Regions from separate parts of the Homo sapiens genome. Here regions 1 and 2 are each reported to be linked to region 3. Evidence: microRNA targets listed by miRTarBase, many of them from high-throughput screens and not tested one by one. Region 3 holds a microRNA gene; each other region holds the end of a gene's coding sequence.
What was found. Region 3 holds the annotated microRNA hsa-miR-6748-5p (UGUGGGUGGGAAGGACUGGAUU, at 1,664-1,685, shown strand). A microRNA usually pairs through its seed, bases 2 to 8, with sites in the 3' UTR of a target mRNA and lowers its output. Matches are read on the target gene's strand: a 7mer-m8 pairs with bases 2 to 8, a 7mer-A1 pairs with bases 2 to 7 and ends in A, and an 8mer does both.

Region 1 (3,248 bases), not on the chromosome of region 3:
TTCTCATATTGAGAGTTTTGTACAGAGCTCTGAGCACAAATTCACATCTAGAGTCCTGCTTTCCAAAGCATCTGCTGGCCTCTGTCACATTTTTTTCAGCCAAAACAGCCTTTCAGGGCCACCAGGTGATGTGGTTAGAGTACTTAGGATAAACCAATAGGACTGTATAATGAGAAGCTAGCTTTGGTCACTAGACTGTTATGTAAAATATTTGAAATTTGTAGGCCTTTCAGCTGCTTGATGAAATTCAAGAATCACTTGATTTAGATGCAAATCGTATGTTTGAAATGTGCACATGGGATTGGTTTTGGCTTTGTATTTTTAGAGGAGTTCTTGTGCCCAGGTAGCCCAGATCCCCACTGGTTGCTGCTGCTAAATCTGGGGGTCTTAGGTAGACAGCCCACTGGCTCCCTCAGCGGAGAGCCTAAGGTAACAGAAAATGTTTTGGTCCACACTCTGCCATTGCACTTGGTGAGATTCACTGGTGGAGGTGCTGATCCTTCCTTGACCAAAGCAGAAAGGACCCAGTTTCCTTAGAGACTTGTGGGCTGTCAGAACCCAACTCAGCCTTCTTCCTACACCATTGTTGTGCTGTGGCCTGCAGAGCCAGGAGAGAACCCAACACCTTCTTTAGCTGAGGATCCTGCTTTCTTCCCCACTGTATCTCACACGGACAGAAGACAAGTTCACTCATTCCTCTTGGGTCCGAGTTCTCTGTAATGGTCCACTTAATGAACAGTGAACCTACTTCTAGAACCATCTTTTGAACAAGAAAACAGTCTTTTGTCAGATAAATACATCAAGGCAAACCTTGAAGACAGCATGAGAAAATCCAGCACTGCTGGACTGGTGCCTTGCAGGCAGGTGGGAAGGAAGGGGAGCCAACTGCCTGTAGTTCCCACCAGCAGTGCCAAATGACCAGCCATCTCCCCAGCCCAGGTGTGCACAGGGCATCATTGTTCAGCCCTTGGGTTTGAGTAGAGGGCTAGGCCATGTTTGTCCAATATGGAGAACAGGGGTTGGCCTTACTCCTCCATATTCCATACTGAATAGCCTTCCTATGAACTAATTCTGGCTGCGTGGCTGAAGAACGTAACTAGATGGTTTGCTATGATGTTGACATGAGAGCCAGCTGAGGCTGAATGGCCAGCGAGGCTCAGTGGACATTGTTTCACACCTCCCCACAAACCATCTCTTGATGCTCCTGCTGGAGATAGACTGTGGGGTGGGATGAACCATAGGGCTGTGCTAGTATGGTATTTTTATATTATCATTAGAAGAGAAGCAGAGGAGGATGGAAGGAAAGGCAAGAGGAGCAAGTCTCTTAATGTGGCACAGTGTTGAAAGGAAGTACATTGTTGCTGACGTTGGTTAAGACTATGATGAAAAGATGTCAGAAGCTGCACTGTGAAAGCAAGGCTGTGACATTTGGAGAAGGTGGTTTGTGTCTGTGGACTAGCTCCCCACTGACCATCTCACAGATCCACCCACTTGTGCTCCCCTGAATCTACCTCCTCTTGGGGTTCGAGTGCAGAACTCTTGCTCTTCATTTTCTTCTTCTTTTCAATCCTGTTATTCTTAACACTGTATTTAACTCCAAGGAATTTTATTTTGAATCACAACTCTAAGATCTCTTGTTTGGAGGGCAGTTTCAATTTATTAATGAACCAGAGAAAACAGCACAAAATGACTGAAAAGCCAAGAAAGATGGGTAGGGGTTCATTCTGCCTGATTCTCCCGTGCATATGGAATAAAGCCTCCCTGAGCTCCATGCCCCTTAGATAAGGGAAGGCTGGTCCTGCAGAGGGAGCACAGTGCTTCTCTGTTTCTATATTGTGGATGGAAAACTCTCTCTCCCCACCCCCCCATGGAAAGTTTCCCTCTGCAGGATCATCAACCTGAACATCTAAGACCTCAAAAACACCTCTTTTTAAAAAAATTATTATTATTATTATTATTTTTTAGAGACAGAGTCTTGCTCTGTTGCCCAGGCTGGAGTACAGTGGCGTGATCTCAGCTCACTGCAGCCTCCATCTCCCAGGTTCAAACAATTCTCCTGCCTCAGCCTCCTGAGTAGCTGGGATTACAGGCGTGTACCACCACGCCTGGCTAATTTTTGTAATTTTAGTAGAGATAGGGTTTCATCATGTTGGCCAGGCTGATCTTGAACTCCGGACCTCAGGCAATCTGCCCACCTCGGCCTCCCAAAGTGCTGGGATTACAGGTGTGAGCCACCATGCCTGGCCAAAAAGACGACTCTTGAAACACATTTTTCCAATTTGCAGCTATACTTTTTCACACCTTTGGATTTCACTTTGTCTGAAGCAGTGCATTTAGAGAGAGATTGCAAACCCAGTCCATTAGATTCTATTGTTCTTTTCTCCTATGCTGCTTAATAGTCTACATCCAGGTTTATCCCCTCACACTCAGAAGACAAAATATTAAGACTTTAAATTAGAGATTCCAAAAGTATGAACATACATCATCTCATCTGGTCCTCACAACAGCCCTGTGAGGCAGGCAGGCAGGCATCATGGTTCCAGAATGCAGAGGACAGAGTCCTAACTGGTTAAGCTGGAAACCAAATCCATGTCCTCTGTCTCCTGGTTTAGTGCTCCTCCCACTCCATGAGATGAACAGCACTCACTGTAATGAACAAAACAGCCTTTCTGCTTAGAATAGATGAAATGTCCTTTGGGCTTGCACACAGGTGATTTTAAGTAGAAACCTTGCTAGAAAGCTTGGAAGAAAAACACACCTGAGCTCAGTTCAGCATCAGAATCAGCATCAGAGGGATGAACAGGAAAGAACATGGACATCTTTGACAAGGGTTTCTGCTTATGTTCTTGATTCTCACCCAGATCATGGTTGAGTGCTGTAACTTTAAAGCAGCAAAGTCCAGTAGGAGGGAAGGCATTTAAAGGACTTTCTCATCTAGCAACTTATTGATTCCTTCACAAATCCTCTTGAGGTTGGGCCTACAGTCTCCATCCAGACTATAGAGGGTGGAGAGGAACTCCACATCGGCAAAGTGGTTAAAGACGTGGTTGATGCGCCCGTGGGTCCTGGGCGTCAGGTGCCGCTGCACCAGTTCATGCACCAGGTCCTTGCACTCATGCAGGAGATTGGAGAGCACGTTCCTATCGAAGGTGTATTCCACCTCATAGAAGCTGACAATGGTCATGGCGGTCTGGTTCAGCTTCTTCCGGAACTTCTCCACAATAACCAGCTCCTCTTGGCTAAACTGG
Region 2 (3,248 bases), not on the chromosome of region 3:
GGGGAGGGGGCTCACAGGGCACCAAGTTCGGGATCCTAGGACTGGCAGGACCTGCTGGAGCCTGAGATGGGCCCCAGGGGCCTGAGGTTGCCTCCTCCTGTCCAGACCCAGCCTTGGCACCTCCCAAGACTGCCAAGGGCCCTACCATGGCCCCACAGCCCCCAGGGCTGGCAGTTCCATCTAGGAGGGTGCCTCTAGGCCCCACTCTCAGGCTAGGATGGAGAGGCAGATCTGGGCCTGGTGAGGTGACCTGCTTCTGGAGGGGCAGGGCCGCACCCGAGAGCAGGGACAGGTGCCCGAACACAGGGTCTCCAGGACGTAGCGCCCCCCCGCATACTTGAATGTATGTGCGTATTTATTGCTCACGTCTGTGCCATGTTGTCAATGGGTCCTTTCCAACCCAAGAGGTACATTTGTTTTTCTGTTTTTCCTGAAAAATAAAGTCGGCCAAGTGAGTGTGGTCCGTATGGGCTTAGTCCCGGGTGGGGGCCTAACCCGGTAAGAGGCTGCACTGTGCAAAGTGTCCACAGATACCCACTGTCTGGGCCCTCTGAGACCTCAGAGAGATGGAGTTCCCACTGCATTTAACCACGGGGGAGCTGGGGCACAGAGGGGTGAAGTGGCTGCCTGCTGTCACCACTGATTCCTGCACCCCTACCTCCTCACGCTCCCAGCCCCTAGGGAAACAGAGCATGCTCTGAGCTGACACTCACGTGGCCGGGACCAGCCCCCAGAAGCAGCAGCCCCCAGGTCAGCCCCACGACCCCCTGAGGACCCAGCCTGCTGCCGCCCACCCAGCACCCGGGGGAGGGAGGTCCTTTCCTGGAGTCTGATCCGGCTGGGCTCAGGGTCTGGACACTGAGCCACAGTGGAGGAGCCGACGGCAGATCTGCAGTCTTGGGGCTTGTCTGGGCGCTGCTTGTGGTGGGTGGCACCCCCACGGGGCCCCCGTCAGGGGACACACAGGTGCGCCGGGCAGTCCTGCTGCCCCTCGCCACAGCCCACCTGGCCATGTTGGCAGCCACAGCCTCTGTGCTGGTTGACTCCGTTGCCTCCTCCACCCCAGAAGGGGCCTTGGGAACCAGAATCAACGTGTACTCCAGGTCCAGGGTCCCAGCCAGCTTGCGTGTGGTGGTACACGCACACAGGGTCCAAGTAACCGTGCAGGGCCCAGGACCGCGCACAGCCAGGGAAGCGCAGCAGTGCCGCCCACGCTACTGGCTGGGACAGCCTCTGAAGGTGCGGCCGAGGAACCTGCTTGGAGAGACGCTGTGACGAGGGATGCCCAGGCCAGCAACCGTGCCCGGGAGGCAGGGATGTCCTGGGGCGGGGGGGTGTAGAGTGGCAGGAGATTAGGATGGCAAAGCCCCTTGCAGAAACCTGGCTGTGGGATTGGGGCTGCGGGGAGGGAAGGGCGGAGGGAGACAGGGTCCAGGGGGCCTCAGGCAGGAGCTGGCGGGATGCTTCTGGCACGCGGGGGGTAGCCATAGGTCTTCTCTAGGAACGTGCCAGCCTTGGGAAGGATTTCCCTCCAGGGCCAGCCTGGGCCCAGAGGTGCTGGCATCAGACAGAAAAGACATGGTAACGTCCACATCCCAACTACCAGCCGCCATCTCCCCATCCGTAAGAGGAGGGGTTGGCCCAAGCGGCTCTCCTTGCTCTAATTCTGCACTTCCAGGTCCAGACGGCTCCCTGGACCTCCCCACATGCTGGTCCAGGCCCTCTGGAGGCAGTGAGGCAGCCAAGCCAAGCCCAGCCCCACTGCACTTCCAAGCCCCCAAGAGACCCCCAGCCAGTGCCTCCATGGAGGAGCAGGCCTGGGTGCCGGTGGCTCAGCCGAGAAGAGGACAGTTTCCACAAATGGCACAGAAGGCTCTGGGTGGGAATAATAGAGGGTTGTTGGCTGAAAGAAGGACAGGGGGTAATCGAGGCAAAGCCCACGCCACAAGCACACTGGGAACGATGCCGCCGCGCCCCGGCCTCCCACGGGCCGGATGTGAGCTGGCAGTCCTGGCCGTGTCCCGCTGGGAGGGGCCGCACTGGGTCCCTGTCGTGCTCAGTCCTGCCTCCACCTCCCACCTCGCCCCATTCTCTTCCCTGCCGGAGTGTGGCGGGTGATGAATGCTGAAGGTTACGCTGCCCAGAACGCTTCTGCAAATAAACAGGCTGCTGTGTTTGCTCGCTTTCATAAACACGGGAACATCCTGCGCACAGACAAGGCTGGGAGACAAACCCCACACACCTCGGAGGGCCCTGGGGACGTCCAGAGCGCTGTCCACCGAGGGAAGGAGGCCCAGGTGGCTCCCCCGGGAGGGGTCTGGAGCTCCTAACACACGGCCACGCCATAGCTGCTCGTCCTGCCTGGGCCAGCAGGCAGCCTGGTTTGCTCACTGTTTCGCCGACGGCCGGCGGCCGAGGACCAGGGCTCAGGTCTGCACTGGCTCACGGAAGGGAGGCCGCCAGAGCTGGCCAGGGGGGCGGCAAGGGCCTTGCAGAGGAAGGCTGAGGCTCACAGGGGTGGTGACCTGCTCAAAGTCACGCAGCGACAGCCAGGAAGGGCTCTGACGCCACATCCAGCCCCCTTTCCACGCGACTGTGGCCTCTGTGGGCAAGAGCTGGGTGACTCTGTGTAGAAGGAACTGTGGTGAGGCGAGAGGTCCTGCGGCTCCTATGTCCCACCCAGCAGCACCAGGGATTCAGAGCAATCGTTCTAACTCCAGAAAAAGAAAGGCCACGAGGGCCACAGGCCCCAGCATCTGGAAGTAATGTCTGTTTATTGATAGAAAACAGGCCACGTCCAGAGAGGCCCAGGGCCAAAACCTCCTTCTGGAAGGCCGAAGTCCCACAGTGCCGGGGAGCGCAGGAGTCAGCTCGGCTCCGTCTTGCCAGGGCTGGGGGGACCCTCATCCTCACCCGCTTCCGGAGCTGCAGTGGATGTGGGGGCCCCTGCAGCCTCCAGAACCAGTTCCAGGGCCCCCTCGCCCGCCACACGGTGCACCTGCTCGCCTCTGGCCGTCAGGATCTCTTCGATATTTCTGGGGGGCAGGGAGGCAACATGGCTCTTCAGGGCCCCCCAGCCGCCCTGCACTTCAGTCCCCTCAGGGCGCCCCATGGCCAGGCCAGAGCTGCAAGCACCAGGCCCAGCACTCCTGTGGCATCAGGCCACACGGGCACTTCAGACGCTGGCCTGTGTGCCCTCACCAGCCCTGTGTCTCTGCCGGTATGCGCCGCCTCAGGAACCCAGTCTC
Region 3 (3,248 bases):
CTTTGGGAGGCTGAGGCAGGCGGATCACTTGAGGTCAGGAGTTCGAGACCAGCCTGGCCAACATGGCAAAACTCTGTCTCTACTAAAAATACAAAAATTAGCCGGGTGTGGTGGCTCATGCCTGTAATCCCAGCTACTTCGGAGGCTGAGGCAGGAGAATCGCTTGAACCTGGGAGGCGGAGGTTGCAGTGAGTCGAGATCGTGCCATTGCACTCCAGCCTGGGTGACGAGCGAATCTCCATCGCAAAAACAAAAACAAAAACACTGGCCGGGCCTGGTGGCTCACGCCTGTAATCCCAGCACTTTGGGAGGCCGTGGCAGGCGGATCACGAGGTCAGGAGATCAAGACCATCCTGGCCAACACGGTGAAACCCTGTCTCTACTAAAAATACAAACAATTAGCCAGGCATGGTGGCGGGTGCCTGTAGTCCCAGCTACTCAGGAGGCTGAGGCAGGAGAATGGCATGAACCCAGAAGGCAGAGCGTGCAGTGAGCCGAGATGGCGCCACTGCACTCCAGCAAAAAAAAAAAAAAAAAGCACCTCACAGATAGTTATTTGTTGAAGGATATACAAGGCCTGGGTTTACTCTAAGGTTTCTGCACAGAGACCATAACTTGTGAGGCTTCTCTGAAGCTCATTGCATTCTATATTCATTGCCTATTTTCTGATCCTTCTGGCCACTGCCGGTGTGATTCCCCAGCAGGCCCTCTCCATCAATATCCCTGTCCCAGAAATAGGAATTGACGGTGCACAAATAACTTCCTGGAATGCAGGACCATTCCTAAGTTATCACTAACACCCTACCAAGAGACTGTATCTAGAGACATTAACCTGAAATCTAGGACTCAGCAGCTTCTCTCCACAGGGCTCCTTCAGTGGTAGATGTCCCCTGTATGGTGTGGCCACCCTGAATGGCTCCTCCCTGGCCTTATCCCGTCCCTCAGCACCATCCCTGTGCTACTTTGTAGCTGGGGCCTCTGGCCTCTTGGCCCTCTACTGCCTCCTGCTTTTGCTCTTCTGGATCTACAGCAGCTGCATCGAGGACTCCCACAGGTGACTGCCTAACCCTGAGGGCCAGGGGCTGAGGTAGGATGAGCCTCACCTCCACCACAAGGCTTGTTCTCTCCCTTTCAGAGGTGCTATAGGGCTGCGCATTGCACTGGCCATCTCAGCTATAGCCGTCTTCCTGGTCTTGGTGTCTGCCTGTATCCTTCGATTTGGCACCAGGTCTCTCTGCAACTCCATCATCTCCTTGAACACTACAATTAGGTAATGGGAGAGGGAGGGAAGCCTGGCTGGGGCTGACTACCTTCCCTCTGCAGCGGGGTCCTATAATTTCCTTTTATCCCCATCAGTTGCTCTCAACTCACAGGGCACTGGGCACAGGTGTGCCTCGGATATAAACTATCACGCTTTCTCACAACTGTCTCTTTGACCTCACAGCTGTTCTGAAGCCCAGAAAATTCCATGGACACCCCCTGGAACTGCTCTGCAGTTTTACTCCAACCTACACAATGCTGAAGTGAGACCCAAGGATAGGAGGAAAAACTGACATAAATATCTGTAGCTGTGTGGGTGCTCACCAGTGTATTGTGAGCTTGGCCTACCAGTGAGAGGAGCTGAAGGGGTTGTCAGCTTAAAATTCAGCAGTTCAGAGTGGTGTGTGGGTGGGAAGGACTGGATTTGAAATGGTCCCACTCCTGACGATCCTGTCCCTGTCTCCTACAGACCTCTTCTTGGGTGAATTTGGTATTGTGGTGTGTGGTCTTGGTGCTCCAGGTCGTGCAGTGGAAGTCTGAAGCCACCCCATACCGGCCTCTGGAGAGGGGTGACCCTGAGTGGAGCTCTGAGACAGATGCTCTCGTTGGGTCACGCCTTTCCCATTCCTGAAGAATAAGCGGAGTGCTTCCTGCAGCCGAAGACTCCATGCCCAAGTGCCTGTAATCCCCCCCCTCAAGGCCCTGTTTATGTTGGGAGTCTTAGTTTTCCTTTCGTTGGGGGGTGGGGGGGAAACATAATGACAGGCCCCCCTCCACCTCTTCCTGCAGCTGTTTTTGTACCAAAATATTATATTACTGTCTTCATCTTAGTAGTGAGTTTTTGATGTTAAAGTACAACTAGATAGGAGGAAGGAGTGAAGGCTAAGCAGACATGGACTGAAACTTAGAGGTACTGTTAGGCAGCTGCCCTAGGGATGACTGCTCCTTTATTTGTTGTTAATGAATCTTGACCTCCTTGTGTGACCCTGGTTGTTACTCCATTCTAAGATTGGCGTTTTTTTTTGTTTTTTTTTTTGTAAATAGAGACAAGGTCTCGCTATGTTGCCCAGCCTGGGCTCGAGCAGTGCTCCTGCCTCACCCTCCCAAAGTGCTGGGATTACAACAGGTGTGAACCAACACACCTGGCTCCCCAAGGTTCAGTTTTTATCCTCCTCTTGGAGAGGTGAGTGACTTGAGGTCATTTCTTCACAAGCTCCGGTAGGCACCCACAGTATTGTCAAAGAGTTTTGTGTTAGGGAAGTGTCCAGTTTTGTCCAAGAGGAAATAGAAGCGTCGGCCTTTGACTTTCAGAGGTAGCATGGCAGGGACTTCACCCCGGTGGGCCATGCAAGATACCTGCTTCAAAGGAACTGTGAAATGGGCCCCCAAGCCAAAGGGGGCATGAGTGGTGAGGGTCACCTGCTGCCCTCCAGCTCGAAGCACCACTGAGCGCACAGACCGGAGAGAGAAGAGAAGACCAGCACCGAGTACGAGGGCTCCTGCAGGCAGGGCAGAGATTGGGGTGAGGGGTTTTCACTGGGCATCTAAGTACCGACCTTTCCAGTGCCCTCTGAATAAGAAATTTGTGGGATGAAAGTAGTATTTACTGAGCGCTTTTTTTTTTGAGACTGAGTCTCACTCTGCCGGCCAGGCTGGAGTGCAGTACTGAGCTCCTGTTATACCCAGTAATCTTGTTATTCCTCCCAACAACCTTAATAGATGTCCGTTTCCATTTTAATGGGAAGATGGAGAGCTTTAAGGACCTTGCTCAAGGTCGCAGAGTGAAGGGCAGCCCTCAGCCTAGGCTATGACAGGGCACGGCGCTCGGAGACATCACTGTTTCCCAATTTTTTTTTTTGAGAGGGGAGTCTCGCTCGGTCGCTTAGGCTGGAGTGCAGTGGCGTCATCTCGGCTCACTGCAACCTCCGCCTCCCAGGTTCAATTGATTCTCCTGCCTCAGCCTCCCGAGTAGCTGGGACTACAGGCGC

Region 1: the mRNA of TNFAIP8L3 is a reported target of hsa-miR-6748-5p. The part of its 3' UTR that is shown has no 7-base or 8-base seed match.
Region 2: the mRNA of DNLZ is a reported target of hsa-miR-6748-5p. Seed matches in the 3' UTR shown: 7mer-m8 at 925-931.

Annotation. Positions count from the first base shown.
Region 1 is chr15:51,054,964-51,058,211 of GRCh38, forward strand. It overlaps TNFAIP8L3 (TNF alpha induced protein 8 like 3), which reads right to left. Exons shown (of 2, transcript NM_001311175.2): 2 at 1,638-3,248. The coding sequence ends at 2,918. The region is part of intron 1 of MIR4713HG (MIR4713 host gene); the gene reads left to right. Among named protein-coding and RNA genes, the nearest start is that of MIR4713HG, 19 kb to the left of the region's middle.
Region 2 is chr9:136,359,146-136,362,393 of GRCh38, forward strand. DNLZ (DNL-type zinc finger) reads right to left here. Exons shown (of 3, transcript NM_001080849.3): 3 at 338-3,035. The coding sequence ends at 2,867. GPSM1 (G protein signaling modulator 1) reads left to right here. Exons shown (of 14, transcript NM_001145638.3): 14 at 1-456. Among named protein-coding and RNA genes, the nearest start is that of DNLZ, 3.0 kb to the right of the region's middle.
Region 3 is chr11:62,788,157-62,791,404 of GRCh38, forward strand. MIR6748 (microRNA 6748) reads left to right here and starts at 1,659; the gene lies at 1,659-1,729. TMEM179B (transmembrane protein 179B) reads left to right here. Exons shown (of 5, transcript NM_199337.3): 2 at 867-1,054; 3 at 1,136-1,270; 4 at 1,445-1,523; 5 at 1,730-2,244. The coding sequence ends at 1,891. TMEM223 (transmembrane protein 223) reads right to left here. Exons shown (of 2, transcript NM_001080501.3): 2 at 1,815-2,759. The coding sequence ends at 2,467.